2 separate regions of the Homo sapiens genome follow, and region 1 is linked to region 2. Evidence: fine-mapped expression QTL. A gene starts in region 2. The other region holds a variant in brackets. All regions are shown on one strand. Distances are from middle to middle.

Region 1 (5,382 bases), 70 kb before region 2:
TTGGCAAAAGCTAGCAAAGTGTGAGTAAAGTTGGTCATGCAGTGGCAAGTTCTCCTTACCCTATGTTGGGAGTTGGTAGGTGATTGTGCTATTCTCCATGGACAACTCATTCATATTTAACTGGGAACCTCTGAACAAAATATCCTAATCCAAAGGCATGGCCTTCTATAGTGTAAATTCTAGACATCAAGGCACAGTACTCCTAAGTCCTCTATTTCTCTAGCAGTAAAGCTGGTTCATGCAAAGCTCAGTCTCCCCTGGGGGCCCTTGCATGTCCATCATACACAGGTTATTTACTATAAAACCTCTAGAAAAATCCCTTATGAGGTCTGTTCCTTCCTTCCTAGGATATTCAAATGGACATTCTCTTTCCAAACAGCCCATAACTATCAAATCACTTGATTTTTAGTGCAAAGAAAGAACAATTGCACCAGAATCCGGTGACCATGCTTTTTGGGTAGCTCACAGAGAATTTCATAATTCAGAATTAATTAGGCAGTGAGCAAGAACAAGAGGCATATTTTGGTGTATTAATTCATGCCAAGTTCAAACTCATTCCATCTCTGTTGCCCGGTGTGAATAATTATGCCATTAATCCCAGGCAGGAGGAGAGCTATTGTGACTACAACACATTTCTAAAGCAAATAAAGAAAAATGTCACTTCTCCCTTTCAACTAATGCTCTGAATACAGCTACATAATAATAATAGTCATTTATTTATAGGGCATAAATTCCCTAGGGCTCAATAAGCCACAGGATAAGCAAAATGCCAGTTAAAGAGAAAAAAAACAGAACTTTTCCAGTTATTAATAATTCTGAAACAAAGCACTTGTTGGGGAGAATGACCAAGAGGAGAAACTGAAAATTTAAGGAGAGCTTGGAAAAGGGCTCAAAGAAAGAGACAGTTGTGTGGCTTTTTCATTTTCTTCTCCCCTCCTGTTACATACTGCTCCCACTGTGACTCAGAGGGCCAGCTGTCTGGGGAAGAAAAATTTGACACATTTTTTAGGTTGGTGCAAAAGTAATGGCAAAAACCACAATAACTTTTGCACCAACCTAATAATCAGCCCTGAATGTCACCCTGATGCTACACACCCTTTGCTGTGAAAGCAAAATAGGTCGACCTGCCCCCTTCCCCATTTCTGAATTCCTTTCCAACTCACAGATGGCTTATTGAGCATAGAAGTATTGGAGGATCAGTGTGGTTTCCCATCCAGCCTCTCTTATGAGGGTCAGAAATGCATGGGGAGTAGCAGTCAAGAGGGTGCCCTATGTGCGTCATTTCCAGCTTCACAATGTTGAAGAGGAGATTGGGGATAGACAGAGGAGTGGCACTATGCAGAAGCAGTTCTACATTTTTCTACATTTCCTCTGAGACAGAAGGAATAGGGTCGAGGCCCACCAGGCAGGAGCCCTGAGTGCCAGAGGTCACAGAAGCAGTGGGGATCAGTCCACACTGCCCTGACACTGGCCCTTCTGCAGAGAGGTGGTGGCTGCTCTGGGTTCACACGTAGCCCTGCCCATTCCGCCAGTCAGAGCTGGCAAGAGATCCTTTAGCCACAAAGGCAGAGTGGCTGAGTTAGGAGATGGGGCAGGCCCTTCTCCTCAGTGGCTCCCACACCTAGCAGTGTCCAGAACACAATTCAGTGTTGCATGAACGAAATGAAGTGCTCTCAGTCTGCCTCTCATTCTTTCTTTATTTCACTTGGGGAAGTCACTTGACTCATTGAGTTTCAGTTTTCCTAGGTATAAAATGCTAACGATATTATATTATGAAGATGAACTATTGGAATTGCTATTTTTGTGGCCCAGAATTTTTAGAATGTCAACAATTTCACAAGGTTCAAACTAATAATTTATTTATTCCTTCATCCATCAATGAATGGCCACTATATGCTTAAAGCTGAGGATTCAGCAAGGAACAAAACAAATGATCTGGCCATGAATCTGACATCTTAGTTACATCTTAGTCAGGGGAGGGCAGAGTATGAACACACAGAGACAGGGAATCTTCTCTCAGGGGTAAATGCTGAAAGAAAAATACATCAGGATATGGGACCAGAGAGTGTGGAGGTGGCTACCCGTGACAGGGTGGCTAAGAGAGTCTTTTCTGAGGGGTTGGCATTCGAGTAGAGACCTGAAGAAAGCAAAGGAGAAAATAAAGATCTGGGAATAGAGCATTTCAGAAAGGACATTCCTGCAGGTGGAAAGGAGTGAGGGGTGGGAAGAGTGGAGGAGGGCAAGGTCAGAGAGTAGGCCATGGGAAAGACTTTGCAGTTTAATTCTAAATGAGACAGGAAGTCATTGGAGGGTTCTGAACACAGATGTGATACATTTTTCTAAGATCGCTGTGGTTGTTTAAGTGAAGCAAGTGAGGGCAAGGGGAGGGGAGAACGACGCAGACCACTTAGAATGTTACTGCTGTCATCAAAAGAAAGATAATGAGGACTTGGACTAAGATGGTAGCGGTGTCCGTGCCAAGAAGTGGTTATATTTGGAATATATTTTGAAAGTGGAGCTAACAGGAATGACCAGTGAACTGGCTGCAAGGTGCGGGAAAGAGAAAGGTCAAGAATGACTCCTAGGCTTTGGGCCTATGG[T/G]AATAAGTGGCTGGCGGTGCCAAGGGGGAATGGGGTGGAGCAGGGTCGGGAGAGGAGGAATCTAGAGTTCTGCTTTGCACACAATTGCATTTGTTTTGTCTGTCGGTACATGTGGAGAGTTGAGCGGGCCATCTGGAGCTTCATGGAAATGTCAGGGCTAGAGATAGCTCCTTCCAGCTATTTCGGGGCTAAACTTAGATCAAACACATGCACACTCTTGGGGATCTGTAAAGGACAGGACTGTATGAACACAAGGAATAAGTGACTAGATGCTTTCCCTGGGTTGCTATGTCAAATATGCTTATTAATATTTTAGAAACCAAACCTTTCTTCCCATATTCTAATTGATCGTCTATTCAACAAGTTTTACAATATAAATTTTAAGAATGTGCATTTTTCTAGGAACTCGGTAAAATTACGATTATTTGAAAATAAAATAATGTCTTTTACTAATAGTTTTACTTTCCCTGAATTGCTCCCTCACGTGGCGGGTAAAAGAATCTGCTCTGGACTCCCCAGTCTAGACAGTAAAAGAACTCAGTCTGGACACTAGAGGGCGCAATGCAGACAGTCAGAGCAGCCGCAGGAACTGAAAGGCGGCAATTCAGGAGTTCGCAGATCACTCCCTCTCCTGCTGTGTAAATCAGGGGTCCCGGCATTATGAGTCAAGGAGGGCAGCCCCCAGGCCACCAACGTGTGACCATTTTGATCAGGGGGATAATAGGGCCAGGCAGGGTTTTTCCAAAGGGAGCCCCTGGCAAATTTAAGGCACATCAGAGGAGAAAAAAGAAGTTAAGGAGAGAGGACACGTCAAGGAGAAAGAGAAAGAAAAATAAAGTAAGCAAAAATGAGGGAAACCAAGAAGTGCCTATTATAGAAGAATGGGAGAATTCCAGAAAGTCAGGGACAGAAAGGGCCTCAGAGACTTTTTATTTTTTTCTTTAAACTGGGTCTCGCTGTGACACCCGGGCTGGAGTGCAGTGGCGTGATCACAGCTCACCCCGACCACCCTGGGAGGATCAAGCGATCCTCCCGCCTCAGCCCCCCGAGTAGCTGGGATTACAGGTGCACAACATCACGCCTAATTTTTGTATTTTTTGTAGAGAAGGAGTTTCACCATATTTCCCAGGCTGGTCTGGAGCTCCTGGGCTCAAGAAATAAACCTGCCTTGGCCTCCCAAAGTGCTGGGATTACAGGTGTGAGCCACCACGTCCTGCCCAAAGACCATTTTTATTGAACTTTCTGTTTCCCAGATAAAAGGCTGAGGTGCTTCCTGGAGTTAAGTTTGGAGGCCTCCCAGGGTTGCTGTGCTCTCAGTCAGTGGTCTTCATTTCCCTACCATGTCATCTTCACAAAGTGTATGAACCTTACCAGGTGTCTCCTAGATGTCACATCATTCTCAACAAGCCTTAATGTGAGCACCCACTTACTTCACATATTTATTTTGCTGAGTCCCAAATGAACTGTCAAGTACGAATGTGGAATGCTGCTATGGCATAAGTATGATGATACAACTTGTACTGACATGCTAGATACAATAAATCTGCATTTAAGATGTAATTACAATAACTGGTTTTGTGGCTACAACTTTAAAAGGGCTGTGGGGATGACATTCAATTTCCCAGCATTCTTAAAACATTAAAAAAGTTTTGCATGCCTGCAGCATGCAAAATTATAGATGAAGAATCAAAGTTTTGGTATCACAGATATGGGTTTAAATCCTGGCTTTCAGTGGTTGCTAGCCCATGATTTGGAGCAATATTTCTAAGACCTCTTGCCTTCTCATCTATAAAATGAAAATAATAATAGTACTATGTCAGAGGATTGTTGTGAGGGTTAAATAAGATTGTTGGTAAAACTTCTAGTTCATTGTATCCTCTCAATAAGCAATTTGTAATGTTCACGTCAGAGAAAAACTGATATCCTTAAACAATAAAAGATTCTGAAAACAAATAGGGAAATGGACACAGGATATGAATAAATGATTCACAAAAGGAGATAAATACATGTGAATTAAAGTTTACAAGTAGTCAAAGGATGCAAAGTAAAGCAACAAGTGGAAACATATTTCTCCTCCTCCTTGGTTTCTTATTTCAGTTAAAAGCAGGCTCACTCAATCAGTTGTCTAAGCCAAACACCTGAAAATTAAAATCAACTACTTCCTCAAACACGGGACAATTTGAGCATCAAAATAAATAATAGCATTATAACCTATTGAATAAAGTAAGAATTCCAAAGTCCACACTGATATAAATAAATGAATGTATAAACAGTAAGTAGGAGAGAAGGGAAGGCTTTTCTTTACAGAAGAAAGTCAGATAATAATAAATGTAGAAAGAATGACAAAATCAGAAAATAATTTGTCAGTCATCCTAATAATAATTCTTTTAGGCAAGACGATTGCAACTAGTAGGAGAACATTTAAGGAGTATCTCCCCACAAGATACTTAATTGATTACAAAAGGTAAATTGGTAAATGTACTAACTTACTGGAGAAACCAAGCAGGTTTAATTTTAACCAGTTGATGGAATGTGACACTTCCAATAATGAAACTCGTTGACAGCAGAGCCTCCTGATGTGATGCAAAAACTCAGCATTGCTTCTGTGAGATCCCTGCCAAAAGTCCATAATCTGCATGTGATCATGTGGAACATCAGACAAACCCAAACTGAGGACCATCTACAAAACAACTGCCTGTCCTCTTAAAAACTGTCAAAGCCATGAAATACATAGAAAGACTCAGAAACTGCTCCAGATTAAAGGAAACTAAAGAAAGAAAGA
Region 2 (5,382 bases):
TAGAATCTGAACAGCAGGACTTGAGTTCCAGACCTTTCCACTGAAATAGTCTACCCAAATGATAAGGAACTAGAAAGGTAATTCTGGTAATATGATAAAACAGAGTTCTATATCACCTCCAAAAGATCACACTAGCTCCCCAGCAATGGATCCAAACCAAGAAGAAATCTCTGAATTGCCAGATAAACAATCCAGAAGATCATTAAGCTACTCAAGGAGATACCAGAGAAAGGTGAAAAAACAACTTTAAAAATTAAAAAATATATATATACATAAATATAGGATATGGGTGAAAAATTCCCCAGAGAAATAGATATCATAAAGAAAAAATAATCACAACTTCTGGAAATGAAAGCCATGCTTAGAGAAATACAAAATCCACTGGAAAGTTTCAACACTAGACTAGAACAAGCGGAAGAAAAAACTTCAGAGCGCAAAGACAATGCTTTCAAATTAACCCAATCAAACAAAGACTAAGAAAAAATAATTTTTAAAAAATGAACAAAGCCTCCAAGAAATGTGGGATTATGTTAAACAGTCAAACCTAAGAATAATTGGTGTTCCTGAGGAAGAAGAGAAATCTAAAAGCTTGAAAACCTTATTTGAGGAAATAATTGAAGAAAACTCCCCTGTCCTTGCTAGATACCTAGACATCCAAATACAAGAAGCTCAAAGAACACCTGGAAAATTCATCACAAAAAAGTCTATCACCTAAAGTCCTATCCCAGTTCTGTTAAAGTAATAGCAGGAATAGCACCTTATAAATACCTAGAAAAATAGTAGAAGGAAACATGCTTAAGCATTAATAATGATCTCCGGTGGTAGAATTTTTGGTAAGTTTAATTTTATCATTTACATGTTCCTACTTAACTATACATATATATTTATATATATTCATATACATAAATATACAAACATATGTATATATACACATTTTTGTTTATGGACAGCCTATGACTGTGAGCCAAGGGACATCAGAGACATGGCTCTCTGGAAACTGAGAGAATACTTAGTGGACAGTTTTTTGTTTGTTTGTTTGTTTGTTTTTGAGATGGAGTCTCGCTCTGTCACCCAGGCTGGAGTGCAGTGGCGCGATCTCAGCTCACTGCAAGCTCCACCTGGGTTGACGCCATTCTCCTGCCTCCGCCTCCCAAGTAGCTGGAACTACAGGAGCCCGCCACCACGCCCGGCTAATTTTTTGTATTTTTAGTAGAGATGGGGTTTCACCATGTTAACCAGGATGGTCTCGATCTCCTGACCTCGTGATCCACCCGTCTTGGCCTCCCAAAGTGCTAGGATTACAGGCATGAGCCACCGCGCCCGGCCTTAGTGAACAATTATTATCAGGATGATCAGCATCCATTTTTCCATCACCTGGCAACAACAACTAGCATTTCTCAAGGGAAATCCCCTCCTCATTCATAAGCACCATAGATGGAGTGGAACAGTCCCCACCTCAGCTTAAGGAGGGCTAAATAACCAAAGCATAAAGCAATCAGTCCACTACACTTCAGTGGACCCAATGATGACTCATTTTGGTTCAATAAATATCAAGTCCAGAACTTTTGTGCAGAACTGTGGAATAAAAAAAGTTATCTTTGTCACAGAATATTTATATTTAAAGAGGGGATTCTAAATATCCCAAAAATATGAATCTGAGATAGTGGTAAGATAGGAATGGGTTGCCATTTGCAGTATTTGTTGGGTGTGTGCAACTCTGCATACTGCTAAGGCAAGTCCAGCCTCCGTCTCACACCAACAGGCAGATTTCCCCACCACGGCCCTTACCATCTTGTGCTCTAACCCCAGATTTTCAGTCTACTCTTGCTAACCATCAATTCTTCAAGGGCAAGAGCCATGTCTCTCATATCCCTGGATCTGGCTTGCTAAATAATTATTCATGATTTTATCTGAGTAGAAAAAGAGCCAAGAACTGAGAAAAGGAGACATTCTTGGTTCTCAGTCACTGAGGAGCTTCTGCAGTACCAGCCTTTCTGCTAGCTGCAGCCACAGCTTCAACAGCTCCACCTCCTTGTTCTTTATTCTTGCTTTCACCTTGTTACTCAGCAGCAGGGGTGTAAATGTGACAGTGCCATGTCAACTTAAACCAAACCAGATAATTTTAATAAACCACCTTCTATAATGACACCCATCAAAACCAGAAGGGGACAAGTCTAGGAGGTCTCTGAGTTTACTGTACCCATCCCTCCTTCATCTCCCTCCAGCATTTGTTTCTGGAAGGAGTCAACACCAACAGCTCTGACCTGGGCAGCCTTCCTGAGAAAATGCAGCCATTCCTCCTCCTGTTGGCCTTTCTTCTGACCCCTGGGGCTGGGACAGGTAAGTGACTATCCCTATTCCAGAGGCCTGAACCCATCTTATAAGATACCCTGTACCCATGAGCACTGGTCAGGAATTTTCCTCAATCTGAGCCCACCTCCCATTCCACACCCAGACTTATAAATCTGAGGCTAGATAGACACTCAGCAAAGATCGAAAAATGAAGGGTGTTCCCTAAAAGGTTTAATGGGTGTTAGCCTCTCCCTAGACCTCTCCTTTATGACCTGGAGTGTGGATTGTTCTTAGAAAGGCATTTGGTAGGGAATGTGAAGCTAAAAAAGATAAGTAATTATTACTCTACACTCCAACCCAGGAAAGAGGAGCTCAGACACCAAGTTGCAGTCATAGGAGTTGTTACTGGACTCAGCTTAAGAACCACTTATTCAGTGCCCCCACCCAGTCACCCCTGCCAGGAGGGAAGCCCATGGTGCAACTGATCTCAGAGATGGCAAGATGACTGTGTCCATAGCTCTCCCATTACCTTGGCTCCACCTGGGCTTTGCGATTCATTTTTAGTTGATTTCTCCACTTCCTTCTGCCTTTGCAGGCCCTCAGCTACTCCACTGACCTGGTGATAACCCCCTCTAACATCCCTGAGGTCCTGAATCCCACCAGCACTACCCCCACTAAACCTCAGCCAAAGGCTAATTGGAGGCTATTCATTTATGCACCAAACAACACTTACTGAGAACCTAGAATGTGTTCAGCCCTGGCACATGAGAATTTTAGAAAATCCAACTCCAGAAGCTCATGGGTAGATCATTAGAAAATGGCACCAATCAGGAGGACAGCAGAGGCTCAGAGGAATCAGAGAGACTCACTAAAAAGGAGGAGCCTGGGAAGTCCTGTCCAGGATCCTCTGGGGCTCTACCACTGTGAAAATAGATCTTTCTTCCTCCATGTGTGTTTCTGCAGTAGGATGCAGAAGTCAAGCACTGTCCATTCTTTCTGAGAGAAGGTTCTGAGACTTAAAGTTCAGAAAAGCTTGCTCTGCCTGCAAGGAGTACTGCCTGCAGAGCTCAGGAGGACCCCTCCCTCACTGTCTGCAGCACACAAAACACTTCACCCTCAATCACTGTCGTCCTAAGCCTTCTCTCCTGACTGCAGCCATCCCCAGCTACTTTATCTTCCAGTCTTTCCTTTCAGAGGAGATCATCGGGGGCCATGAGGCCAAGCCCCACTCCCGCCCCTACATGGCCTTTGTTCAGTTTCTGCAAGAGAAGAGTCGGAAGAGGTGTGGCGGCATCCTAGTGAGAAAGGACTTTGTGCTGACAGCTGCTCACTGCCAGGGAAGGTAAGGAGCAGCACCAGCTCACCTCCTGAGTTCCCCCTACAGGGACCCTTGTTTTCTCCTGGGGACTGCAGCCCAGGGGAGCTTCCAGAGTTCCTGGTAACACAAGCCCATGAAAGCTCATCGGAGCAGCCACCTGGGAATAGGACTAAGATGATGAAAGGCTGAGAAATAGGACAGGGTCAGAGGGTCAGAGGGTCAGAGGTCAGAGCAAGTGGCATGGTTTCACACACTGGCCCAATAAGGCAGTAGTAAAGGTTGAATCCATGCATTAAGGATCAAAATGCAAACTCGAGCAATTTCATGATATTTCCTGAAGGCAAGAGAGAGCCCCCAGAAGCCCTACTCTTCATGTCTTTGTGAAGTAGAGGGCACAGTCACTCAGCCCTGGAGCCCTCCTGTCCCTTCAACTTCCCCTCAGCTGCAGCCCTACCCTGCCACAGCTGTCATCTGCTCTTCACTGCTCCTGGGCTCTATCCCCTGTGACTCCACCCCCATCCTCACTCTGCTCTCTGTGCAGCTCCATAAATGTCACCTTGGGGGCCCACAATATCAAGGAACAGGAGCGGACCCAGCAGTTTATCCCTGTGAAAAGACCCATCCCCCATCCAGCCTATAATCCTAAGAACTTCTCCAACGACATCATGCTACTGCAGGTGAGGCACACTCCTGCCACTCTTGCTCTTCTTGGTCCAGTTGGTTCCACTCCCACTGGGATGCCGGCCCTTTCCTCCTTTCCATCCTGACCTCTTGGTCAGTTCCTGTGCCTTAGAGGAGAGGGAAGATTGTGCAGCCCCATCACTGTGTCGGGGCCCAGAAGGCCATTGCCTGACCTGGACTTTCTTGCTTCTTCCCCACCAGCTGGAGAGAAAGGCCAAGTGGACCACAGCTGTGCGGCCTCTCAGGCTACCTAGCAGCAAGGCCCAGGTGAAGCCAGGGCAGCTGTGCAGTGTGGCTGGCTGGGGTTATGTCTCAATGAGCACTTTAGCAACCACACTGCAGGAAGTGTTGCTGACAGTGCAGAAGGACTGCCAGTGTGAACGTCTCTTCCATGGCAATTACAGCAGAGCCACTGAGATTTGTGTGGGGGATCCAAAGAAGACACAGACCGGTTTCAAGGTTGGGTTTCCAGCCTCTACCCAGAAAGACCACAGGGAGAGAGGAACTTGAGGGAGTTCTGGGGTATGACAGTGGCCAGATCTTTATGCTCTCAGCCCAGAGCTTGGGCAGCCTGTGTCCCCCTGGAATCTAGTCTTTAGTCCACTCCTTGGGTGGACTGGGGTGGCTGGAGGGGAAGGATCTGTCATCCGACAGTCACTTATCACCAAAGTGTCCGTGAGAATTGCAGAGAAAGGCTTGGTCTGGGGAGAGCCAGAAAGCACAGCCAGGGCCATGCTGGAGACCCAGGACTGAGGGAGGTGAGTGACAAGGCCTGCCTGGCACTGATGTCACACAAAATCCATAACAGAGACCACCCATCCCAGGGAACACTAGCTCAGTCTTTCCTCTCTCTGTTCACAGGGGGACTCCGGGGGGCCCCTCGTGTGTAAGGACGTAGCCCAAGGTATTCTCTCCTATGGAAACAAAAAAGGGACACCTCCAGGAGTCTACATCAAGGTCTCACACTTCCTGCCCTGGATAAAGAGAACAATGAAGCGCCTCTAACAGCAGGCATGAGACTAACCTTCCTCTGGGCCTGACCATCTCTGGGACAGAGGCAAGAATCCCCAAGGGGTGGGCAGTCGGGGTTG

Evidence for each region. PIP is the estimated chance that this variant, and not a neighbour inherited with it, causes the effect.
Region 1: its variant is fine-mapped to the expression of GZMH in whole blood (TOPMed, PIP 0.93).

The regions. Positions count from the first base shown.
Region 1 is chr14:24,676,870-24,682,251 of GRCh38, reverse strand. No RefSeq gene overlaps it. Among named protein-coding and RNA genes, the nearest start is that of GZMB, 45 kb to the right of the region's middle. RefSeq lists a silencer at 3,056-3,235. The variant T/G (reference allele first, on the strand shown) is at 2,601.
Region 2 is chr14:24,606,517-24,611,898 of GRCh38, reverse strand. GZMH (granzyme H) reads left to right here and starts at 2,214. Exons shown (of 5, transcript NM_033423.5): 1 at 2,214-2,340; 2 at 3,487-3,634; 3 at 4,152-4,287; 4 at 4,493-4,750; 5 at 5,153-5,382. The coding sequence starts at 2,286. The coding sequence ends at 5,296.